Homo sapiens: one gene and its partners. The protein of the gene in region 1 purifies or fractionates together with the protein of each later gene. This does not show direct contact. Each region holds a gene or a part of one and is shown on either strand. Other genes may lie near its edges.

Region 1 (4,191 bases):
GTGGGCATAAAAATGACCACCGGAGGGCCTTGTCAAAAGGCAGGTTTTGAAGCCCCATCTGAAAACCTCCTAGATTAGTATTTCTGGGAGGTAGGCTTGGGTATCTACACTTTACAAGTTCTCCAGGGGATTCAGATGCAAGTGGGTTCCAGGTCCACAGTCTGGTAGCAGAGCCTGCATTTCCTAAGGGCAGAGAGCATAGGTCTGAGTCACCCGGTACTGTTAGTGCCCAGCACTGGGCCTAACATAAAACCATTTGTCATAAATGAAGGAACCAATGGATGAAGGAAGAAAGGAAATAAAACACAATTTCTTATATCAAGATAATTTGAATTCTTGAATGCTGTAACTTAGGGGAACCACTGAAGCATCATTTGGTCCCAATTTAATCATATTTGAAACAAATATTTTTTTCCTTGTCTTCATATCTCTGCCTACCAAGCGTTCTCCTCACCTCTCCTATTCTGTTGTCCTGGGACATGGCTTTAAGTATGGGTTCTGCCTGTCTGCTGGCCCCGAGAAAGTGGGGATGGCACAGGAGATATCCTGAGAGGGGCTGTTCAGAGTTGGGCAGCGCTCCTTTCCCACCCCAACCCCCCAGCCAACCTCCAGGCCTTGCAGGGAAAATGCCCATAGAACCCCATTCTAAATCAGTTTATGAATCCCACCTCTCCGGGCCCTAAGCATGCCTCCCAGCCCAAAGCTTTTGAGAAACTTTCGCCGGACCTTTGTCCCGACCCAGATCCTAGCGTCCTCTATGCCCTGCCTCCTCTGCACTTGTAGCCCATGTGAGTTGCTCTCTCAGCAGCCTCTTGGCCATCTCTCCCCACCTCCACTCATGCCTCTCTCGAGCATCTCAGAAAGGCCCGAGCCTGACTTCCCCAGCCAGCTATTGTCCTGGCAGCACAGCCGCCACGCCAGCGTCCCCACCCAGTCAGCCAGCCGGCTGCTCCCTGGCCTCGCCAGCACCCCCCGCCCCCCCCCCCGCTCCCCGCCCCGCCCCAGGGAGGACCAGGCTGGCAGCTGGGAGTCTCCCTGCCTGCTCAGCCTTCCTCCTTCCCTCCCTCTCCCTCCCTGCCTCCCTCCTCCTCCGCCCGCCCCTGAGGCAGGGACCGTGCAAATCGAGGAGAGGGGGGACGGACAGGCCTGATGGGGTCCAGCTTAGGGCCCCGGACTCCCCACTGATGCTCTATCCAGGCTGGGTGTCCCCAGCATCGTGGGACCTGGATTTGTGTGCACCGGGGTGGTTCCCAGGCCAGGAGGGTCCCTCTGGCAGGCCCTTGGTGCCCTCGTTTTGCATGAGGACCCCCCTCGGATGCTCTGAGCCACCCTCCTCAACCCGGATCTAAAACCCGGGACACGGCTATCAGGCCAGCCTCTCTCTCCACCCCACCCCCTCTTTCTGGCGTCCATCCCCTCCCCAACACCACCTCTGCTGCTGCCTCTGGCTGTGGACCTGCACCTCTTCCCCATCCCCGCCAGGCCCGGGGAGCGGGGTGAGCCTGGATGAGAGCCCCCCCAACCTGGGGCTCTCCCAGGCCATGGCCCGTGTGCTCCCAGGGAGGAGCCCCGGACCCTGAGCATCTGCTGGAGGCTTGGCAGAGGCCCCGCGGGGACCGTGTCTTCTGAGGACAAAAGGCGGCGGCCAGCAGGCAGACGGAGGGGGGGGGTGGGGGGTGGGGGGGGTAGGGGGACCGGCAGCCAGGCAGGCAGACGGGTAGCAGGGGCCAGCACTGGCCCCCCTCCCAGCTTGGCAGTGGCATGAAGATGGGAGTGGGAGTGTATAGTGGAGGAAGCACCTGCCGGGACCCCCACCTGCCAGCTAGTTGGACACCCCAAGGCTGTGTGCTGCCCACCTGGTGTTCCCCAACACCCCCAGCCCTACCCAGTGCACCCCTCCGGTGCCTGCTTTCCCTGATGCCTGCGATTTAGACCAGCCCGGCTGTATCCACGGCAACAGAAGCAGGAGTGTCACTGGCCGCCAGATCACTGAGGGTCCCACAATGTGGCCCGGGCTGTGATTTACCTGGGTGAGACAGCTTGAGCCCCATCGTGGATTCCAAGACATCCCTGCTGAGAGAGCCAAGGTAAGCAGTCAGCATCCCTCCACCAAGGATGGGGGGCTGGGACTTCTGTTCTGTCTCCCCACACATACTTCAGAGTCTCCATCACTGCCATGCTCTCTGTCTCTGTCTGACTCTGTTAGTCTCTTTCTGCTCCATCAAGGGGCTCCTTGGTACCCAAGCCTGGGGACTCCTCATCTTCCCCCCATCTTCCCCAATCCCAAATGTCCCATGAGAAAGGGAACCACCACCTGTTTCCCCTCACAGGGTCTGTTTTTATCATCATGGTTGCGTTTGGGCATGAGGCTGTGTTAATCTTTCCTTGTGTGCTGGCTGTGGAAGGGATGCCTGGGAGCCCGGCGGCCGTGTTCCCTTCACAATGCCTGCACCCTGGGCAGGCTCAGCCTCTTGCGGCTGCTCCTCTCCCTCTCCCTCCTCCTCCACTCTCCTCCAGGATCCCTGGCCTGCTGGCCGGGTGTGTGTGTGTGTGTGTGTGTGTGTGTGTGTGTGTGTGTGCACCTGGGTAGCAAGCAGGTGGGTAGACATGACAGAGAAGCTGCTCCCAGCCCAGACCATCCCCCACTCCTTCTTTCCTCCTTTCCTTCCTTCCTTCCTTCCACCCTCCCCACCTCCCCATCTCTCCCTACAGGTAGCAGAGTTTTGCTCACTCACCACTGAAGATGTTGCCGATTCCCAGCTAGGGGGAGGAAGTCACTGTAGGGCTAAAGGACAGTGAAGTGGTGGTGGGGAGCACTTCCAGGCCCTAGGCTGCCTGATGGTTCTGTGGGGGCAAAGACCAATCCCATGACAACCTGCAGGGGCCAGGAACAACATGGTTGTCCCTACAGTGTGGGACCCAGCCTCCACCACAAGGCTCTCTGTCTCTGTTTCAGATGTCCATGTTGTGTCTGAGACCCCCCGGATCTTGTGGCCTTGTGCCCAGTAGCCGGAGGTCCATATATCTGGAAGGGCAGGAAAGCCTGGTACATGGAGAACATGGATCCTCCCAGGGACACTTCCCCCAACTACTAGCTCTGCAACTTTAGTGGAAGCATGCCACTTACCGAACCTCAGTTTTCCCATCTGTCAAAGAGACTGGTAACCCTTCCCTGATGGGTGTGTGTAGGGATTGAATGAGTTGGTGCATGTAAGTAAGAGATGTGCATCGAGGTGGCACTGAAGCAATGTCAGCAAAGCTCACAGTCAATATTGTTGCTGATTATTCATGATTAATAGTGTTATCGATTACTTGGAGGAGGGACAGGTCCTTCTTCTCCAGGGTCTCAGCAGAGATCTGGGGAGGGCAGCAAGTGGGCAAATGGAGGGTAGTGGAAGGGAGGCAGGAGAAGCCCTGTGTTAATACTTCTCATTTGTAGAGAATGATAAGTGGTTATGGGCAGAGCCTCCCTCCCCCACCCCACTCCAGTCTTCTTTCCCTGCACTTGTCCCTGTTTGTGCGCACACACACACACAGAACCTTGAGCCCCCATGAGCCAGCAGAGGCCTGGCTTGCAGCCTGCAGCCTTTCTGGCCCTGGTGATGTATGTGTCTCCCTGTTGAGGGGAGACTTGGCAAGAGTTTGGCCTGTGGTCAGTGGTTGGCAGGGCCTGGAGATGAGGCTGAAGCTCCTGAGATCACGGGGCTTCGGGTAGAGCTGGGGTGTGGCCCATGCAGCAGCCAGACCTGTGAGGGACGCGTCCCAGGGAGCTGCTCACCTAGAGCCTGGGGTGGGGGAAGAACGGGGTCTGCTGGCTGATTTCAGGGCATGGAGATGTGATGGGACACAGAGTGTGGGGTCGGTGGCCAAGGGAAGAGGAGGAATGGGGAAAGACTGAGGCCCAGAAGACCATCTCTGTGGGGGCAGGGAGGGGGGCTTTGAGGCATAAAGTAGACTTTTCTGAAGAAGCATTTGGTGTGGGAGAGGACCTGGTCTGTGGTCTGGAGGCCTCTGGGCCCGAGCGTGGTTGTATATATGCTACTGAAAATGTGTGGCTGAGTGTGTAGTCTGTGTGTGCATGTCTGTTCATGGGCAGTGTGGCTGTGTATGAACCTGTGTGTGTAAGCAGGCCGTGTGATGGCATGTGTGTGAGTGTGTGGGTATCTGGGTAGGCTTGTGTGTGTACTGTGG
Region 2 (3,500 bases), 9.3 Mb from region 1:
TAGATGCTGGGAAGTATGAGTTATTTTTTAACATCCTTATTGAGACGTAATTCACATACCATACAATTCACCTATTCAAAACGGTGCACAGTTCAATGGCTTTTAGCATTCACAGCATTATACATCCAAGTGTGTTGTTGTTTAGTTAATTTATTTGATGACAATAAATGAACTAATAATATAGCAGTGATTTTTATGACTATTATACTATTACTAAACCAAGCAATAATTTAATGCCAAAAGCTTAATCTAAACAGGATGAGAAATGTAGACTAGTGAGTCAAAGACTGTTGAAAGTATGCAGCAAACAGAGGGGGTAAGTGGAAATGGCTAATCAATCTGTCCATGAAAACTGGTCGAATAAGGAGTAAAACCTGCTTATCAGAAGATACGTAATAACTTTGGTTAGCACTTTCTTTACCTGCTTAAAGATGGCAAAATATTATCCAAGAGAACATTCTGGGGCCAAGGGGCAGCACCTGATAAGCTGCTGGGTCATTAAGTTAATTTTTAGATATGCTGACTGTGTTACTCTATTTTCACACTGCTGATAAAGACATACCTGAGACCGGGCAATTTACAAAAGTAAGAGGTTTATTGGACTTACAGTTCTACATGGCTGGGGAGGCTTCACAATCATGGCAAAAGGCAAGGAGGAGCAAGTCACATCTTACGTCGATGGCAGCAGGCAAAGAGAGAGCTTGTGCAAAGAAACTCCCGTTTTTAAAACCATCAGATCTTGTGAGATCCATTCATTATCACCAGAACAGCACAGGAAAGACCCCCGCCCATAATTCACTCATCTCCCACTGGGTCCCTCCCACAACACATGAGAATTATGGGAGCTACAATATGAGATTTGAGTGGGGACACAGAGCCAAATCGTATCACTGAGTGTAGAATATGTCAATGGTATTTGTTTCATTCTGCATTTATTGGCTAAGTGCCAACCATTTGCGAAGCACTGTGCTGAGAACTTCAATACCAAGGACAGCCTCCCTGCTGAGAAGGAGCTGACAGTGTTGAGGGCTAGGGTGGGGATGGGGAGAGGACATGATATCAAAAATTGACTCTAAAGTACTGACATATGTCCCTGGAAGGGAATAAGGATAAAGGAGGGCACTACTGTATCACCACTCAGAATGTTACCACTGAGGTAAATGCTCTAATACAGGGGCATAGAGATACCACTGGAACACACAGAGGCACAGGCTAGCTTTACTTAGAGAAATCTGGGAAGGCTTCATAATGCACATACCACCTGAGGGTTGTAGGAGGCAGAGAAAGGCTATTGGGGATGCAGTCTATGCAGATGGAATGGCATGAGGAAAACGCTAGGATCCCACAGGTTTCTGGAAAGTCTGGGGAAGAACTTTGCATGGATGGTGTATTAGGCCATTCTTGCATTGCTTAAAATAAATACCTGAGTCTGGGGAACTTATAAAGAAAAAAGGTTTAATTGGCTCATAGTTCTGCAGGCTATACAAGCATGGTGCTGGCATCTGCTCAGTTTCTGGTGAAGCCTCAGGGAGCTCACAATCATGGCAGAAGGCAAAGTGAGAACAGGCAAGTCACATGGCGAAAGCAGGAACAAGCAAGTGTGGTGGGGAGAGGTACCATACACTCTTAACGTGACCAGATCTTGCTAGAACTCACTATCATGAAGAAGGCACCAAGCCATGAGGGATCCGTCCCCATGATCCAAACACCTCCCACCAGGCCCCACCTCAAGCATTGGAAATTACAATTCTACATGAGATTTGGGCAGGGACAAATATCAAAATATTATATCAGATGGGCTATGGGTGATATTAAGGACAGAATGGAGAATCAGATCAAAGGGGGAGGAAGAACAGTTTGCCCTATATGACACATTCAGGAATACAAAACTTGATATTTCAACAGAGAACAGCTATCACTGCATTACTTTTGTTTTTGGCTTTGTTTTAAATCAGAAGTGTGATATGATTAGATTTCTGACCACAGAGTGGTGGGTTTTATGCTCAATTTCATAAATACCTTTTGGTTTGGGGAACAAAGAGGACACTAACCTGAACTGGCCTGATCCTGACCACGTGAGAGAAGCAAGATAAATCCCATTGTATCTGGCATTGGTGGTGATACAGTAATGCCTTCTTTTATCTTTATTCCTTCCCAGGGATATATGTCAGGCTTCCTATAACTACCTTCAATTTTTAGGGTAGAAACTAAGGCACAGCATAGCTTAACATAATTCCCAGCTTGAACAGAGACTACCTGCCCAGAAGACTTCCCTTGACCCTTCAGGGCCATGGTATTTAAGATATTGCAATAAGTTTTATATTCAGAGCCCTGAAAGTTCACAGTACATGTTCTGAAGGAAAAGAGAAGACAGAATTACCAGTACAACTTGGTAAAGAACTAAATATACATTTCTTAAGAAATGTTTCTTCTGGATAGGGTGAAAAAAATGATTGTCGTGATTATGCAGTAAAACTCATAAGCCACAAGAAATATATGTGGAGTTCCCCTTTATGATGTCCTATATCTTTTGTAAATATATACTGTCTGTTCACGCACCTGCAAAAGAAGGGGCAGGTATTTTTCTTACCTGGTTGTTGGACTCTTTTTTTCCCTTAAAGGAACATAATTTCCAAATGACAAGTGGCGGGAAACTATCTCTTTGTTTAAAATTAATTCTTGGTTTTCACATATTCTGATTTATAGTATGATTAGTTCTCTAAGCCTTTGTTCTGTCTTCTAATATTTCATTCTTAGGGTCTAGCCAGGCCTCCTAGAGGTCTCCAGCTGGGGTTAGTTTTCTCCATTGAAAAAAAAGTAAACATGTAGTGAAAAACGGCATTGTTTAATCAACACGGGGAAAGTCAATCCACCTTCTCTTGTAGGAAGGGTTCCTTCCTGAGTACCCTTAGGCTCTCTATATATTTCATGTGTTGTCATCAATATACTAATACAGGTGTTCCTCAAAATATGATGGGGTTATATCCCAATAAACCCACCATAAATTGAAAATATTATAAGTGGAAAATGCGCTTAATACACCTAATGTACTGAATATCATAGTTTAGCTTAGCTACCTTAAACGTGCTCAGAACACTTATATTAGCCGACAGTTGGGCATAATCATCTAACAGAAAGCGTATTTTATAATAGAGGGTTGAATATTTCATGTCAAGTTTTAAATACGGTATTGAAAGTGAAAGACAGAATGGTTGTATGGGTACTTGAAGTATGGTTTCTACTGAATGTGTATTGTTTTAACACCATCATAAAGTTAACAATTATACGTTGGAGACCATCTGTATTCTATATAATATCTCTCCTTGTATTTTCTTCTCCTTTTTGTGATGACTACAATCAGAGCAGGTGAAAGAAAACCCACCAATGCAAGCCAGCTCATTTGGTTTTCTAATAAAAGGCCCAGTGGTGTACAGTGTTGACTAAGATGGAACATGGATGTTAGTTCTTGACATCGCTTATCAGATATAAGAGAACCATGA
Region 3 (3,500 bases), on another chromosome or scaffold:
TGGCCTCCCAAAGTGCTAAGATTACAGGCATGAGCCACTATGCCTGGCCAATAATTCTTAGTTACCTTGGTATACTTTTCCTATGGGTGATAATAAAAGCATATCATCCTGTATAAGACAAATATTATTTTTCAGTTTCCCGTATCAATAAGGACAAAAGCTTGTTCAAAAGCAGTAGTGTCCCTATACTTCTAGCTGAGGGCCTAAGAAGCAGCATCACTCCAGCTGCAATGAACACACCTAGCATTCAGAACTTTGTTTCTAAATAACATTCTCTAATAAAAGGAGCCAGGGCCCTTGAAGAAGTGGTCAATTCCAGGGCTGAACTAAGCAAGATAAACCTGGATCATCTTATAGTTCTAGAATGTAATAAAGTGCTTTTAAAAAAAAAAAGTGAGATAGAGGTATGGCAAAAGGACAAAGGGGTCAAGATGAAAGCGGTCCCAATGGCCAAAACTAGAATAATCCAAACAACAGAATGAATATAGTATACAGAGTCCAGAGTATAAAATATCCAAATCTATACTGACATAAATAGTTAAATAAATGCAAAGAAATGACAACTCTTCCTTACAGAAGAATTTTAATTATTAAATAAAAATGAATGAGAGAAACAGAAAAGTCACCATTGAAACACCTGAGTAATGACTGTTACAGGCAAGATTAACCTATGAATGCAAAAATTAGTAGGCAAAAATTTAAAAACAGGATATTTGCAGAGCTCCAAAGAATAGCCCCTAAAATGCTGATTAATTACAAAGGGAAACAGTCACTTTATGGTGGAGAAATCTGGCAGACACTACATTAACCAAGGGATTATGGCTGACATCACCAGTATTAGGGCATTTCAATATGCACCCCTGATCCAATGCACTGAGAGGACCATATCATCTCAGGGGTATTCTTCCCCAAAATCCATTACCTCCGTCAAACCACAAGAAAACATTAGACAAAACCAAATTGAGGGACATTCTACAAAATACCTGACCAGAGCTCTTCAAAGTGTCAAGGTCATAAAAGATGAGGAAATGCTAAGGAACTATCACAGATAAACGACTAAGGAGATATAACAACTAAACGCAATATGTGGCCAGGCGCGGTGGCTCATGCCTGTAATCACAGCATTTTGGGAGGTCGAGGCAGGTGGATCACCTGAGGTCAGGAATTCGATACCAGCCTGGCCAGCATGGTGAAACCCCGTATCCACTAAAAATACAAAGATTAGCTGGCATGGTGGCAGGGACCTATAATCCCAGCTACTCGGGAGGCTAAGGCAGGAGAATCTCCTGAATCTGGGAGGTGGAGGTTGCAGTGAGCCGAGATCTCGCCACTGCACTCCAGCCTGGGTGACAGAGCGAGACTCCGTCTCAAAAAAAAAAAAAAAAAAAAAAGGGGGGGGCGGGCGTGCTGGCTCACACCCGTAATCCCAGCACTTTGGAGGCTGAAGTGGGCAAATCATGAGGTCAGGAGATCGAAACCATCCTGGCTAACATGGTGAAATCCCATCTCTACTAAAAATATAAGAAATTAGCCAGGCGAGGTGGCGGGCACCTGTAGTCCCAGCTACTCGGGAGGCTGAGGCAGGAGAATGGCATGAAACCGGAAGGCGGAGCTTGCAGTGAACCAAGATCGTGTCACTGCACTCCAGCCTGGGTGACAGAGCGAGACTCTGACTCAAAAAAATAAATAAATAAATAAATAAAATAAAAATAAAAATGCAATATGGAATATTAGATCATAGAACAGAAAAAAAATTAGTGAAAAAATGGTAAAACTTTTTTTTTTTTTTTTTTTTTTTTTTTTTTTTTACACAGGGTCTTGCTCTGGTGCCAGGCTACATACAGTGCAGTGGCATGATCATAGCTCAATGCAGCTTCCTCATCCCAGGCTCAAGCAATCCTCCCACTTCAGCTTCCCAAGTAGCTGGGACCACAGGTGTGCGCCACCAAACCAGCTAACTCTTTTTTAATTTTATGTAGAGAGGGAGTCTCCCTATGTTGCCCAGACTGGTCATAAATTCCAGAGCTCAAGGCATCCCCTCGCCTCAGCCTCCCAAAGTGCTGAGATTATAGGCATAGCCACTGTGCCCAGCAAAAATGGTAAAATCTTAACAACTATGGTTTAGTTAATAGTATTGTACCAATGCTATCATCTTAGTTTTGATCACTGTACTATGACTATGTAGGATATTAACATTGGGGGAAGCTGGGTGAAGGGTATACAGATCTCTCTGCAATATTTTTGCAAGTATTCTGTAAGTTTAAAATGATTTCAAGTAAAAAGCTAAAAAACAGGCTGGTGCAGTGACTCATGCCTGTAATCCCAGCACTTTGGGAGGCAGAGGCAGGTAGATCACTTGAGGTCAGGAATTCAAGACCAGCCTGACCAACATGGTGAAACCCTATCTCTACCAAAAATACAAAAATTAGCTGGGTGTGGTGGCACACACCTGTAATCCCAGCTACTCAGGAGGCTGAGGCAAGAGAATTGCTTGAACCCAGGAGGTGGAGGTTGCAGTAGGCCAAGATCACACCACTGCACTCCAGCCTGGGCAACAGAGTGAGACTCTGGCTGAAAAAAAAAAAAAAAAGTAAAAAACAAAAAACAGTGGTATCTAGTCTCTGGATCCAGCTGCCTATTTGCAGGAAATAGAGATGATAGAGGAACATGTTAAATTGTATCATGATATATAATCAGGAAAATTCAAACTATGGGAGATCTGTCTGGATTCTTCAATAGATAAACACTATGGAAGAGAAAGGGAACCTGGGACCCTAAAAATTAAGAGAGATTGAAAACACAAACAAAAACTTTTTTCTTAGGGGCAAGACTAAGCCTAACGGCAAATGAACTAGGGATGTTCATTTGAGTAATAAAACTTTTAAAAATACAAAGATGTCATTACATATAAAAGTCAGGATAATAGTTACTTATGAAAAGAGTGAGGGGATTGTGACGAAGGGGGGCTTCTGAAGTGAGTGGCAAAGTTCTGATTCTTGACTTGGATGACAGTTACAAAAATGTTCACCTTACAATAATTCACCATAGAATACATTGTTATGTGTGTCTTACAAATTCTGTTTAATTTTGTAATAACGGCTTTTTTTTTTTTTTTGAGACAAAGTCTTGCTCTATTGCCCAGGCTGGAGTGCAGTGGCATGATCTCAGCTCACTGCAACCTCCACCTCCTGAGTTCAAGTGATTCTCCTGCCTCAGCCTCCTGAGTAGCTGGGACTACAGGCTCCTGCCACCACACCCAGCTAATTTTTGTATTTTTAGTAGAGACAAGGTTTCACCATGTTGCCTAGGCCGGTCTCGAACTCAAGCTCAAGCAATCTACCCACCTCCCACCTTAGCCTCCCAAAGTGCTGGGATTACAGGTGTGAGCCACCTCGCCTGGCCATAAAGGCTTTTTTAAGTAGTGGTATCAGAAGTGCTCTTCCTGACCCTGATTCTTTTATTTTTGAGACAAGGTCTTGTTCTGTCGCCCAGGCTGGAGT
Region 4 (3,500 bases), on another chromosome or scaffold:
GGAGTCACTCGCTCTGTTGCCCAGGCTGGAGTGCAGTGGCATGATCTTGCCTCACTACAACCTCCACCTCCTGGGTTCAAGCAATTCTGCGCCTGAAATCTCAGCACTTTGGGAGGCCGAGGTGGGCTGAACACTTGAGATCAGGAGCAGGAGAGTAGCCTGGCCAACATGGTGAAACCCCATCTCTACTAAAAATACAAAAAATTAGCCGAGTGTGGTGGCAGGTGCCTGTAATCAGGCAGACTGAGGTGGGAGAATCACTGGAACCTGTGAGGTGGAGATTGCAGTGAGCTGAGATCACGCCACTGCACTCCAGCCTGGGTGACAGAGTGAGACTCCAGCTCAAAAAAAAAAAAAAAACCACACACACACAAAAATACAATTTTATTAGAATTTATACAATGAGAATCCTAAATATAAGCCCTAAATTGATCTGCTTATTTTAGATGTTAAATCAGTTAGCAATAATTTCCGAAGTATAGAAACTTCTAAATTAGTAAAATCTAAAATAATTCTTTCCATCTTCGGCCTCCCTTCCCCTTCCCCGCTCCCCTTCCCCTCACTGGTTACTTTTCTCCTCCTGCTAAATGGATGTAGAGGCACAAAGAAAGACAGGAGGGACTGGTCACGGTGGCTCACACCTGTAATCCCAGCACTCTGGGAGGCCGAGGAGGGTGGATCACCTGAGGTCAGGAGTTCGTGACCAGCCTGACCAACATGGTGAAACCCCATCTCTACTAAAAATACAAAAAATTAGCTGGGTGTGGTGGCGGGCGCCTGTAATCCCAGCTACTTGGCAGGCTGAGGCAGGAGAATCCCTTGAACCTGCTAGGTGGAGGTTGCAGTGAGCTGAGATCGCGCCACTGTACTCCAGCCTGGCGACAGAGCAAGACTACATCTCAAAAAAAAAAGAGAGGAGGTCAGGCTCACCGTCCCATGGGCCTGATAACTGGGACAGAGCTGCCCTAAAGGGAGACAGGAGTGTTGGGGGGATGGGCATGAGCTGGGTTTTGGCTGCGTTAATTTCAAGGTATTAGTGACGTCAGGCAGCACTTGGATAGAGGAATCTGGAGGGCACGGGAGAGGACAGGGCTGCAGAGATTTATTTGGGACACTTGTACACTTGTATTTAAAGTTGCTAGGCAAGGGACCAGGTGTACAGACTGAGTTCTGAGTCTCTCCAGCATTTAAGTGGTCAGGGAGAAGCAGTGACTCCTGAGGTCAGGAGCACTGGGAGGGCTGTGCCCTGGAAGCCCTGGGCAGAAAGGGCTTCCAGGGGAAAGGAGGGAGTCACCGTTGGTCAGCAGGTCATCTGAGAATAACACTCCACCATGAAAGGTCATTGGTGACCTTGACCAGAGGCTCTCTGGCCCGGGGAGGGGAAAATTCTACCAGGACAAAAAGATGTCCCCTCTGGACAGACAAATTAGAAAATAGGAAAAACAGCCCAGGGGCCCAAAGCTCACCCTGCAGAGGGTGACTGACTGGCCCCTTAGGCTGGAACCTCTGTACGGAACCCCAGTTGGCCAGCCATCAGGCAGTGCCCAAAGCTCAGCTTGCAGAGGAGGGGTGAACGTGTACATGGTGCTCAGGGCTGTACACCTACAAGGTGCCTGTCATGCAGCTGGCTGCCACCCGAGGGTGCACACACACAGCAGTGGATCCCGCCAAGGGGTCTCAGAGAGGAGGCGGGGGGCGGAGAATGGTATCAAGACCCTGCTCAGGGAATCAGCTCATTTCATCCGCAGGAGGGCTGTTTCCACTATAAGAGAGGCTGCCAGGCCGGGCGCGGTGGCTGACATCTGTAATCCCAGCACCCTGGGAGGCCAAGGCAGAATGATCACTTGAGGTCAGGAGTTCGAGACCAGCCTGGCCAACCTGGCGAAACCCCGTCTCTACTAAAAATGCAAAATTAGCTGGGTATGGTGGCGCACACCCAGCTACTCAGGAGGCTGAGGCAGGAGAATCGCTTGAACCTGGGAGGTGAAGGTTGCAGTGAGCTGAGATTGTACCACTGTACTCCAGCCTGGGCCACTCCAGCCTAGGCTACACAGTGAGAGTCTGTCTCAAAAAAAATAAAAACAGAGAGAGGCCAGCAGCCTTTCACTGTGAGGGAACCTTTCGTTGGTCAGGATTTGGTCTGAGCCTGTGGAGTAATTAGGGATGTGAATGTAGTGGAGAGGTTGTTTTCTGACTTTGGGGGTCTGAACAAGGTTCTGCTCACTGAACCTTGTCAAAGAACACACCCCCATTCCCTGGGGCTCGATCTGTGGCAGTAAAAAGCACAGAGGGCCCTTGTCCACCCTAGAGACTCTCACCAGTTTCCCTTTGTTCTCCTTAATTTTGTTTTCCCCCTTAATTTTGTCTCAGTTTTGTTTTTAAATTATAAAAGTAAAACATGCCCATCAAATATAACAGTATAGAAGGGTATATAGAGAGGCAAAATAGCCTCCTCCCCAAACTCCAAATACCCCCAAAGGTGACCACTCTTACTACTTCTGGACGCTTCCAGGGCAGTTCAAGCCCACACACGCCTTTGTTTCTGTGAAGGCAGATGGCTCCATGCATTCTGTTCCGTGACTTGCTCTTTCACTAATAGCGTATCTTGGATTTCGTTCCGCGCTTTATTCATCCACCTCTGCCGTGTTCTCCCTTGAGTAGCTGTGGCCCCTTTTGAGTCCCTGTGCCCTATTGCTATTGCTTTAGGTTGTTTCTGGTTTGGGGCTGTTAAAAAGAATGTTGCCAAGAGCCCCCTTCTCTTGTGTCTTTTGTGAAGGTTGCCTCTCCCTAGGGTGAGTTCCTAGAAGTGGACCTTCTAAGTCCAAGGTTAGGAACCCTTGATTTTGTGACATCCTGACCAACTGGCCCCCTGAAATGTACCCTTTTACCTGGCCACCAACCAGATACATGTGAGGGCCTGTTTGTCTTCCCCATCCTCCACCATAACTGGGCATTACCAGGCTTTTTAGAGGGTGCCCATCTGGAAGGGGGTACAGGTTGGGCATCCCGAATCCAAAAATCCAAAATCCCAAATGCTCCAAAATCCAAAACTTTTTGAGTACCAACATGATGCTCAAAAGAAATGCTCATTGGAGCATTTTGTAGTTCAGATTTTCAGATTTGGGATGCCCAATGGCGTGTATTCTGCAAATATTCCAAAATCCAAAAAAATCTGAAATCTGAAACACTTCTGATCCCCAGTGAGGAATAAGGGATACTCAGCCTGTCAAAGCTGCCTTGCTTTAATTCCCATCCCCATGTGGTGACATGGTTTAGCTAGATGCCCAGGCCCTTCCAGGCACTGTCTTTCTGGAGGGCACTCCTGTATGGACAGCCTCCAGCAGGCACAGAGGCCTGGGGGCGGACCCCAGGGTCCCGGCCTGGCCCGCTGCCGCCCTGCTGGAGGGCCTCACAGATCTCTTGAACTTGTTGGCTCATCTCTAGGAAGATACTGGGGTATTTTCAATCGAGTCCAGCCATGGCTTTGTCTAGCAAGACGC
Region 5 (3,500 bases), on another chromosome or scaffold:
TATGCTTCTCATCTTAGCTAAATATCAAAATTTGAACATTGAGATTCCTGGGTCTGTCCCAGTCCTAATGAAACATAATCTCTGAAAAAATAGCCCTGACTTCTGTTTTCATTTAGTTTTTGCTTTACTGTGTTTTAATGCACCACTTTTTTTATTTTTTCAGACTAAATTTAAATCAACAAACTTTAAAACGGACAGTCGATCTTGACCTTACCTCTGGGTCAATTGCTGATGGATGACTGCACTGCGTGAGGGAGTCTGCATAATGCCAATTTATTTTGGCAACTTTCCCATCCTTTGGAGGTAATGCTTCAGCAATAATCACTTTATCCTGAGGTAGAATCATTCCACAATCTCTGGCCACAGAGACAGCAGTCAACATACTGTCACCTAATTTTCAAAATATTTTAAATGTATTGAAATTAAAATGGAAACGTGAACGTATCAAACATGTACTTGCTGAGAATCTACTACAGTCTCCATGACTGGGCTGGCAGAGTAACGATAATGTATGGTTCTTCCACTTACAGTTTAAAAATAACAAAATTGGAGCATACTTATCAAAAGAAGCCTCAAATAACGCAAGCACGTTATATGCTAAAGAAAACATCTCACCCACAATTTTTAAAGCCAAATATAATTCTCAATCTTTTCCAGTCATGCACTATTTGTATCTACACAATACCTGGCACGGTGCTACACACAGATCAGGTGGCTCAATAAATACTTACCGAAATAACTTTACAAAGTGACTAGTGGTCTGTGCAAGAACACCAGCACCATATCATAGAAAATGATGAATTACAAAAGCAAGATCATACAAAACAAAAAGGTAAGACAGGTAATAAGAACAGGTGTAAACGAGAAACAAGAGAGACAACTTCTCAGTCATGAGAAGAAAGAAGAGCAGCAAGAACAGGATCTTATTAAGGAGAAGCAGACAAAGGTTTGTGGATCCCACTGCTACCAAAACAGAAGAGCGAGATATTTCTTTCCTCAATTTCCACACACTATTTCCAAGAATATCTTCCTATGACCTTTGGTACACAAAGCCATATTCTGGCAAGGGGAAAATAAATAAATAAATAAAAGAGGAGGACGAGGAACAGGTGAAAAGTGTCTTGACAAAGAAGACGCAAGAACTAAGAATGGCTGGAATGCTAACAGACTTAGTTACCTTGAGTTATACGGTAAAATTATGTTATTAGATAGATCTCAAGAGTCTAAAACACAAAAATGTATACAGACTTTCTCCATATTAGTCTTACTGAACACGTAAGTGCCATTAAGTATCTTAAATCTGATTATCTGCTAAGAAAAAAAAACAAAAAACAGAGCTACCACAATTTCACACAGCTAATGAGTAAGAGTTATCTAATATTATCAACAGTATAGTAACATCAGGAGAATCCCTTAGATGTACTAGAAAAAAAAAAGTAGGCTATTTCACTAGAATTCAAGCTAGGGTAATAAACAATATCTTACATATAAACATTTCATGCTATCGAATATCTATTAATCATTTTCTATGTAGCTGACAGTTCTAAAAGTTGCAAAGGACCCCAACATGAGTAAAATATACTCCTAACCCTCAAGAATCTTATATTCTAGTACAGAAAACAAATCTACAAATAACACAAGGTACAATAAGTGCTATAAGAAATATACGAATAAAGAGAGAAAACAAAAAGGAGTCAAGTTTAAATTTTTACAGTGTACTTTTACTATTCTTTTTTTTTTTTTTTTTTTTTTGAGACGGAGTCTCGCTCTGTCGCCCAGGCCGGACTGCGGACTGCAGTGGCGCAATCTCGGCTCACTGCAAGCTCCGCTTCCCGGGTTCACGCCATTCTCCTGCCTCAGCCTCCCGAGTAGCTGGGACTACAGGCACCCGCCACCGCTCCCGGCTAATTTTTTGTATTTTTAGTAGAGACGGGGTTTCACCTTGTTAGCCAGGATGGTCTCAATCTCCTGACCTCATGATCCACCCGCCTCGGCCTCCCAAAGTGCTGGGATTACAGGCGTGAGCCACCGCGCCCGGCCGTACTTTTACTATTCTACTACACTTTCTATAAATAGGATTCGCTAGACCTCAAAAAGAATATGACAAAGTTATCTTGCGCTTGGGAAAATATTCAGAGCTAAAAGAGAACTTAGGTTGAAACCACTATAGACTATATAATATGATTTTATAACTGATTATCCCTCAATATAATATAACTTCAGCTCTGTCACACTCCATTTGCTTCTGTGTTCTTTTATAAAGTCTAACCTGTGACCATGACGGTGCGAATGTTGGCTTTATGCAAATCTTCAAGTACTGCAGGGGTTTCTTGCTTTAATTTGTTCTGCATTATAATTAATCCCATAAAATCCATGTTGTTCTCAATTGCATCTCTGCAGAAAAAGAAGTTTTAACACATAATGGTTTAGTCAATTGAGTAAGCAACTTATGTACACAAACTTGAAATATCTAAACAATTAAAAATGTCTATAAGTTATAATGCAGTTTAAAATATCTATAAATGAAAACATTTTATATGCTGAATAAACCACGTGTGTGTTCAAGAGTTCAGTATCTCAATATAATAATCATTTGGAAATGTATGTCACTGTACACTAAACAATTCTAATACTAAGGAATATTCATTTTGTGTAGTATCCAAAAATAAGCATAAATCTATTCTTTACTGCCCTCTACAACATATCCTAATTTAAATGTTAAGTGAAAAAGAAAAAACTGTGCCACAAGCACATTCAATACAGTTTTCGTGGATTCATTATCAAGTCTCAGATCAATTCTATAAAACAATTACTGATCCTGAAAATGTGACACAAGAACCATTAGCAATCCAACAATGAGATCTACTTGGGACCCAGAGATGGGTCTTTGAAAATATTACTAATATAGTTATCAAGATGCTATTCTTTAAATAACTGAGTATCAAGAATGCAGCAGGCACTATGCTAGTCACTGGGAGGTTAAAGACAAAAAGGGATGATCTCTGCTCTCAAGACACTTGGGTGGGGAAACAGACATGCAACCAAAGAGATGCACACAAAAATAGTACGTGCTTTAGCACTATAAAAGAGATGAAGTCTGTTCAGTGATAGTTACGTTCTTAAGAAATCTCAGGTCAGGCATTGTAGCTCATGCCTGTAATCCCACCACTTTGGGAGGCTGAAATAGGAGGATTGCTTGAACCTAGGAGTTTGAGGCCAGCCTGGGCAGCATAGTGAGACCCCGTCTCTACAAAAAATGAAAAAACAATTAGCTGGGCATGATGACATGTGCCTGCAGTCCCACTACTTGGAAGGCTTGAGGAGTGAGGATCATTTAAGGCCCAGGTGGTCAAGTCTGCAGTGAGAAGTGTTTGTTCCACTGCACTCTAGCCTAAGCAACAAAGAGAGATCCTATCTCAAAAGAAACAAACAAAAAAAGAAAACAAACAAAAAACACCTCAACCTACCTGAATTATATCATAGAAATTTTTTTCTCAATG
Region 6 (3,500 bases), on another chromosome or scaffold:
TGGTCTTGAACTCCTGACCTCAAATAATCCGCCTGCCTTGGTCTTCCAAAGTGCTGGGATGGTAGGCGTGAGCCACCGCGCCTGGCCTAATTTTGTATGCTTGTAAGTTAACATTATGTGCCTTTGTATGGATTTGAAATATAAGGATAAAAATCAACCATATTTGTATATTCACTGAATAGCCACTATTCTGATGTATTTAACATCATATATATATGTATTTTTTTTTGTTGTTTTTTTTTTTTTGAGACGGAGTTTCACTTTTGTTGCCCAGGCTGGAGTGCAGTAGTGCAATCTTGGTTCACTGCAACCTCTGCCTCCCGGGTTCGAGTGATTCTTCTGCCTCAGCTTCCCAAGTAGCTGGGATTACAGGCATGCGCCAGCACACCGGCTAATTTTTGTAATTTTAGTAGAGATGGGGTTTCACCATGTTGGCCAGACTGGTCTCAAACTCCTGACCTCAGGTGATCCACCTGCCTTGGCCTCCCAGACTGCTGGGATTACAGGCGTGAGCCACCACGCCTGGCCAACATCCAGTATTTTTGAGTACATGGTTTTCATATACTTAGGCTATACATACATGTTCATGAATTGTATTCATTTAATTATGCTTCTGACTTTACTTGTTCTCCCTAGGGGAATATCAGTTATGCGTGCTTAGTAAAGTTGTGTTATTTTCCAAGATGAAAAATTGCATATATTTAAGAATCATTATTCAAGGGCATTGATTTGTGGGGGGTAGAAAGTTATTATGTGGCCTTTTGCTCATTAAAAACACTGGATCTTTATACTTCCTTTCAGAAGACAGATACTTCTCAGGAGTCAAAGGTAAGAGCTCTTTATAAAGTTTGAAGGAGACCTTTGAACCTTTCAGGTGAGGGGATACGTGCCCCTAGTGGATGGTGACCTCAGCCTTGCTTGTGTTGTATTGTTTTGGAGACAGGTCTTACTGTTGCCCAGGCTGGAGTGCAGTTGTGTGGTCTCAGCTCACTGCAGCCATGACCTCCCCAGCTCAAGTGATCCTCTCACCTCAACTTCATGAGTAGCTGGGAATATAGGTGCGCACCACCATGCCCAGCTAATACTTTCTATAGAAACAGGGTCTCAGTGTGTTGCCTAGGCCGGTGTCAAACCCCTGGCTTCAAGTGATCCTCCAGCCTCGACCTCCTGAAGTGACTGTGGGCCACTGCATCTGTCGTTTGTTTTTTTTGTTTGTTTTTGTTTTTGTTTTTGAGACGGAGTCTCGCTCACTTGCCCAGGCTGGAGTGCAGTGGCGCGATCTCGGCTCACTGCAAGCTCTGCCTCCTGGGTTCACGCCATTCTCCTGCCTGGCCTCCCGAGTAGCTGGGACTACAGGTGCCCGCCACCACACCCAGCTAATTTTTTGTATTTTTAGTAGAGACGGGGTTTCACCATGTTAGCCAGGATAGTCTCAATCTCCTGACCTCATCATCCGCCCTCCTCAGCTTCCCAAAGTGCTGGGATTACAGGTGTGAGCCACCATGCCCAGCCTGTCCTTTGTTCTGTTTTTGATCACTGAGCTATGGTTGAAGGGAAGTAAAAAAAAAAAACAAAAACAGACTTACTTTTTTTTTTTTTTTTTGACACAGGGTCTTACTTTGTCACCCAGGCTAGAGTACAGTGACGCAAACGTGGCTCACTGCAGCTTCAGCCTCCAGGCTTCAAGTGAGCCTTACCTCAACCTCATGAGTAGCTGGGACTATAGATGCACACCATCATGCCTGGCTAATTTTTGTATTTTTTTGGTTAGGGTATTTTTTTTATTTTATTTTATTTTTTGTTTTTTTGGTAGACACTAGTTTTGCCATGTTGCCCAGGCTGTTGTTTTAACTCCTGGGCTCAGTTGATTCACCCACCTTGGCCTCCCAAAGTGCTGGTATTGCAGGTGTGTGCCACTGCACCCAGCCTTGGGAAGTAAAATGATAAGATTTGGGGTTTTGTGAAAAAGATAAAATGGCCACACATGCCAGTATGGTCTTGTTGTTGGATGTTGAGAATGTCATTGTTTGAGAAGTGATTGTGTTCCCTACCTGTGACTGTTACATGAGTATATTCTTAAAAAATAATTTTCTTAGAATTAGAAAATGGGAGTTCAGTTATAACCACTGATTCCTTACCTGTTACCGAGGACTTCATGGTCCAAAGTTACTTCTTTTCTGGTAGGCGCAAGCAAACTGTCGAGTAGGAGTTGCAGCACTGAATACTCTAGCAGGCTATATTGACTGGGTGTCTATGAGTCACATCACTGCTGAAAACTGTAAACTCCTGGAGATACTGTGTTTGCTGTTGAATGAACAGGAACTTCAGTTGGGAGCCGCTGAGTGTCTTCTCATTGCAGTCAGCAGAAAAGTAAGTTACCACTTCAAACTGACTTATCCTCAGTCTCTGAAGTAGGCTGTGTATGTGTTTAATTGCATGTTGTGGCAGAAAGTCATTTAAAGGTTTGGGTTTTTTTCCTTGGGGCCAACTTACTGCCTGCTTCCAACCCCCTTGGACAGGAGTTTGCCAATATTCAAGGGATCCTTTGGCAGAATGTGGAGATTTATCAGGCTGCATGGTTCTTGAAATAGCCATGATACTTGGCAATTTACAGTTAACAGATAAAAGTAAATGTTTAAGTTTAAAGCTCACTTAATGAATGTCAAGGAATCTTGGATGGTGGCTACAGTAGGTTTATATCTGTCTTTTTTTTTTTTTTTTTTTTTTAATTGAAACAGTCTTGCTCTGTCACCCAGGCTGGAGTGCAGTGGCGTGATGTTGGCTCACTGCAACGTCCGCCTTCCGGGTTCAAGCGATTCTCCTGCCTCAGCTTCCCGAGTAGCTAGGACTATAGGCACACGCCACCATGCCCGACTGATTTTTGTATTTTTTAGTAGAGATGAGGTTTTGCCATGTTAGCCAGGCTCTTCTCGAACTCCTGAGCTCAAGTGATCTGCCCTCCTCAGCCTCCTAAAGTGCTGGGATTACAGGCGTGAGCCACTGCGCCAAGCCTATGTCTGTCTTGGCTAACCAATGGAACTGTGACTCTTTTCTCCATAGGAATATTATCTACAAATGTAATTTACTTTGCTGTCATATCAGCATTATTGCCCAACACATTTATTTATTTATTTATTTATTTTTTGAGATGGAGTCTCGTTCTGTTGTCTAGGCTGGAGTGCAGTGGCGCAATCTCAGCTCAGTGCAACCTCTGCCTCCCGGGTTCAAGCAATTCTCCTGCCTCAGCCTCCTGAGTATCTGGGATTACAGGCGTGTGCCACCACACCCAGCTAATTTTTGTATTTTTTAGTAGAGATGGGGTTTCACTATGTTGGCCAGGCTGGTCTCGAACTTTTGACCTCAAGTGATCCACCTGCTTTGACCTCCCAAAGTGCTAGGATTACAGGTGTGAGCCACGGCACCTGGCCTAATTTTTGTATTTTTAGTAGAGACAGGGTTTCACCATGTTGACCAGGCTGGTCTCGAACTCCTGATCTCAG
Region 7 (3,500 bases), on another chromosome or scaffold:
GCTCCAACCAACACGGCATCCGACGTAACCTGACAGCTGCCCTGGGCCTGGCTCAGCTGGTCTTCCTCCTGGGAATCAACCAGGCTGACCTCCCTGTAAGATGCTCCTACTGCCCAGAAACTGTCCCCACCTTCTCAGGCCGCCTCCCCAGCCCCCACTGGCAACCCCTGCTCCTGCACCATGAACTCTAATAAGGTGCCTAGTGCAGCACCTGGCCCAGGGTTTCCTCTTCTGTGGCTCCCCCGGGATCCCCCAGCACCTGCCTCTGGCCCAGGCTTCCCTGGAAGCAGTTCCCAACACCCAGGCCCTCCTCCATGCCTGACCCGAAGCAGAGCCTGTGCTCTGGGCGGGCCCCGGTCGCTGACCTGCCCTGGCCTGGGCCCTCAGTTTGCCTGCACAGTCATTGCCATCCTGCTGCACTTCCTGTACCTCTGCACCTTTTCCTGGGCTCTGCTGGAGGCCTTGCACCTGTACCGGGCACTCACTGAGGTGCGCGATGTCAACACCGGCCCCATGCGCTTCTACTACATGCTGGGCTGGGGCGTGCCTGCCTTCATCACAGGTACTCCCACCCATTCCCAGTCTTGGGGTCCCACATCCCTGGGTCCACCTTTGTGCCATGTTCTCTCCACCCACATACAGGCCCTGAGGCCCCACATCCCCATGCCCCAGGCCGCCTTATTCACAGGTGTCCCTCTGGTTTAACCCAGACTCTGCAGCCGCCACCCAGGCGTCACTCCCTTATCCTGGGGAGATCGGTAGGGGCCGATGGTGGGCAGAACCCTTTTCCATGCTTCATGCCTGGCCCTGTGAGCCCACCTGCCCGCAGCCCTACTTCCCAGGCCCCTCATCACCCCTCCACTGCTCCCGTCTGTCTCCATGCTCCAGGGCTAGCCGTGGGCCTGGACCCCGAGGGCTACGGGAACCCTGACTTCTGCTGGCTCTCCATCTATGACACGCTCATCTGGAGTTTTGCTGGCCCGGTGGCCTTTGCCGTCTCGGTGAGTGCTAGCAGGTGGGTTGGGTGTCACCTGTGGCCCTCCTTTGCTGTCCTCCTGCTGCTGGGGCCGCGTGTCCTCAGGACTCCCTTTAGGAACAGCTGAGGCCACGGGGCCCTGTGGGCTGGGTGGAAGCTGTTTGTCCCCACTGAGCACCCCATGCCCTCTGCCCCTGCCTAGATGAGTGTCTTCCTGTACATCCTGGCGGCCCGGGCCTCCTGTGCTGCCCAGCGGCAGGGCTTTGAGAAGAAAGGTCCTGTGTGAGTATAGGGTTGGGGTGCCTGGGCCATGGGCAGGCACCAGCATGGGAGGTCTCATGGCCGGACTCATGGCCTGTCCCTATCCCCAGCTCGGGCCTGCAGCCCTCCTTCGCCGTCCTCCTGCTGCTGAGCGCCACGTGGCTGCTGGCACTGCTCTCTGTCAACAGCGACACCCTCCTCTTCCACTACCTCTTTGCTACCTGCAATTGCATCCAGGTACCTGGCCCAGCCTGTGGAGAAGGGAGGCACCTGGGCTGTGGATGCCTGAATATGCACAGACCGTTGCTGCCTCTTGCCTGCCAGGGCCCCTTCATCTTCCTCTCCTATGTGGTGCTTAGCAAGGAGGTCCGGAAAGCACTCAAGCTTGCCTGCAGCCGCAAGCCCAGCCCTGACCCTGCTCTGACCACCAAGTCCACCCTGACCTCGGTGAGGGAGCCAGGGGTCTCAGGAGGGCGGTGAAGGGAGGGAGAGGCAGGAGGCCCAGTGAGCCTGTACTTTTGGCCCCACTCCCCTTTCTCTTTTCTCCATCCCTTCCTGGAAGGTGGAAGGGGAGGTGAAATGCTGTGTTCGGCCTGGGGAGGAGATGTTGGAAAGGGTGTGTAGGATTTTGACTTGAGGGAGATGGGGCTGAGACAGATAATCAGGTAATAAGTGCCTTGCACCTGAGAATCTCTCATGAATTTTAGTAAATTTTCTGTCTCCCAAGGTGCTCTCAGGAGACAATTTCTGGTCTCATCTTTTACAGAGCCATTATATAGTGAGTCCAGGATCCCTGGGGGCATGCAGGGGTAGCACAGCTGTGGCAGAGCTGTGACCACTGCCAGGCCTCAATATGGGGACAGCGGAGAAGCAGGGCCCTCTCTTTCAGACCTGAGCATGTGGAAGGTGGAACTTAGGGCAAGTTCCCTCCACCCTCCTTCTTCCCAGCCTGGGGCCAGCCATCCCACTCCCCACTTACTGACCTCTCTGTTCCCTGCCTAGTCCTACAACTGCCCCAGCCCCTACGCAGATGGGCGGCTGTACCAGCCCTACGGAGACTCGGCCGGCTCTCTGCACAGCACCAGTCGCTCGGGCAAGAGTCAGCCCAGCTACATCCCCTTCTTGCTGAGGTGAATCCCGGAGATGGGAGGGTGGAGGAGGGGAGGAGGGGCCCACGCATGCTGGACCCAGGCCAGCCAGCTGTTGGGAGTTGAGGAGCACACACTGTGGCTGACGTGGGGGCCAGCTTGGATTAGAAGCTGTAAGGGACCCACAGCAGGAACCAGGATCCCAGGGGAGAGGAGAGACTGGGACCCTGGGCAAGGGGCCAGGCTGACCCCTCCAGCATGGTCTCATCTTCCTAGGGAGGAGTCCGCACTGAACCCTGGCCAAGGGCCCCCTGGCCTGGGGGATCCAGGCAGCCTGTTCCTGGAAGGTCAAGACCAGCAGCATGGTGAGGACAGAACGCTCTGGCCACCCAGCAGGGCAGTTGGCTGGCTTTTACTGAAGGTGGGTGGAGGTGGCTGGGCTGGCTGTGATCTCTCCCTGGCCTCCTAGATCCTGACACGGACTCCGACAGTGACCTGTCCTTAGAAGACGACCAGAGTGGCTCCTATGCCTCTACCCACTCATCAGACAGTGAGGAGGAAGAAGAGGAGGAGGAAGAGGAGGCCGCCTTCCCTGGAGAGCAGGGCTGGGATAGCCTGCTGGGGCCTGGAGCAGAGAGACTGCCCCTGCACAGTACTCCCAAGGGTGGGCCAGCACTGGGGCTGTGGCCTTTGGGGCCAGTGGGAGGACAGTGGGCCTGGGGTTCTTGGGAAGCAGGACTGGGGTGGTGGCCTCCTGGCTATCTGCCCTCTGTGGGCCTCATCTACTTCCTTTCCCCACCAGATGGGGGCCCAGGGCCTGGCAAGGCCCCCTGGCCAGGAGACTTTGGGACCACAGCAAAAGAGAGTAGTGGCAACGGGGCCCCTGAGGAGCGGCTGCGGGAGAATGGAGATGCCCTGTCTCGAGAGGGGTCCCTAGGCCCCCTTCCAGGCTCTTCTGCCCAGCCTCACAAAGGTGAGTGGGGCACCCCCAGCTGCCGAGCTCCCCTAGTCAGCAGCCTCATACCTCACATTCTCCTGTGGCCGCACCTCACAGCCCCGCCCCGGCCCACAGGCATCCTTAAGAAGAAGTGTCTGCCCACCATCAGCGAGAAGAGCAGCCTCCTGCGGCTCCCCCTGGAGCAATGCACAGGGTCTTCCCGGGGCTCCTCCGCTAG

The links.
Region 2: the proteins of GPR173 (region 1) and MAOB purify together in Homo sapiens (affinity purification with mass spectrometry; one large-scale study listed by BioGRID and IntAct). This does not show direct contact.
Region 3: the proteins of GPR173 (region 1) and PIGU purify together in Homo sapiens (affinity purification with mass spectrometry; one large-scale study listed by BioGRID and IntAct). This does not show direct contact.
Region 4: the proteins of GPR173 (region 1) and CNNM4 purify together in Homo sapiens (affinity purification with mass spectrometry; one large-scale study listed by BioGRID and IntAct). This does not show direct contact.
Region 5: the proteins of GPR173 (region 1) and ATP13A3 purify together in Homo sapiens (affinity purification with mass spectrometry; one large-scale study listed by BioGRID and IntAct). This does not show direct contact.
Region 6: the proteins of GPR173 (region 1) and XPO5 purify together in Homo sapiens (affinity purification with mass spectrometry; one large-scale study listed by BioGRID and IntAct). This does not show direct contact.
Region 7: the proteins of GPR173 (region 1) and CELSR2 purify together in Homo sapiens (affinity purification with mass spectrometry; one large-scale study listed by BioGRID and IntAct). This does not show direct contact.

The regions. Positions count from the first base shown.
Region 1 is NC_000023.11:53,047,398-53,051,588, forward strand, and holds the start of GPR173 (probable G-protein coupled receptor 173), read left to right. Parts: upstream 1-1,391; 5' UTR 1,392-2,087; intron 2,088-4,191. UniProt on the Homo sapiens protein: Is a receptor for the SMIM20 derived peptides Phoenixin-14 and Phoenixin-20. It mediates the Phoenixin-14 and Phoenixin-20 augmentation of gonadotropin-releasing hormone (GNRH) signaling in the hypothalamus and pituitary gland.
Region 2 is NC_000023.11:43,770,951-43,774,450, reverse strand, and holds part of MAOB (amine oxidase [flavin-containing] B), read left to right. Parts: intron 1-3,500.
Region 3 is NC_000020.11:34,667,093-34,670,592, forward strand, and holds part of PIGU (GPI-anchor transamidase component PIGU), read right to left. Parts: intron 1-3,500. UniProt on the Homo sapiens protein: Component of the glycosylphosphatidylinositol-anchor (GPI-anchor) transamidase (GPI-T) complex that catalyzes the formation of the linkage between a proprotein and a GPI-anchor and participates in GPI anchored protein biosynthesis.
Region 4 is NC_000002.12:96,791,902-96,795,401, forward strand, and holds part of CNNM4 (metal transporter CNNM4 precursor), read left to right. Parts: intron 1-3,500. UniProt on the Homo sapiens protein: Probable metal transporter. The interaction with the metal ion chaperone COX11 suggests that it may play a role in sensory neuron functions. May play a role in biomineralization and retinal function.
Region 5 is NC_000003.12:194,431,503-194,435,002, forward strand, and holds part of ATP13A3 (polyamine-transporting ATPase 13A3), read right to left. Parts: intron 2,395-3,500; coding exon 2,270-2,394; intron 391-2,269; coding exon 215-390; intron 1-214. UniProt on the Homo sapiens protein: ATP-driven pump involved in endocytosis-dependent polyamine transport. Uses ATP as an energy source to transfer polyamine precursor putrescine from the endosomal compartment to the cytosol.
Region 6 is NC_000006.12:43,566,039-43,569,538, reverse strand, and holds part of XPO5 (exportin-5), read left to right. Parts: intron 1-801; coding exon 802-828; intron 829-2,184; coding exon 2,185-2,370; intron 2,371-3,500. UniProt on the Homo sapiens protein: Mediates the nuclear export of proteins bearing a double-stranded RNA binding domain (dsRBD) and double-stranded RNAs (cargos). XPO5 in the nucleus binds cooperatively to the RNA and to the GTPase Ran in its active GTP-bound form.
Region 7 is NC_000001.11:109,270,039-109,273,538, forward strand, and holds part of CELSR2 (cadherin EGF LAG seven-pass G-type receptor 2 precursor), read left to right. Parts: coding exon 1-95; intron 96-387; coding exon 388-562; intron 563-888; coding exon 889-1,001; intron 1,002-1,178; coding exon 1,179-1,258; intron 1,259-1,347; coding exon 1,348-1,474; intron 1,475-1,561; coding exon 1,562-1,684; intron 1,685-2,239; coding exon 2,240-2,367; intron 2,368-2,601; coding exon 2,602-2,690; intron 2,691-2,794; coding exon 2,795-2,989; intron 2,990-3,127; coding exon 3,128-3,298; intron 3,299-3,397; coding exon 3,398-3,500. UniProt on the Homo sapiens protein: Receptor that may have an important role in cell/cell signaling during nervous system formation.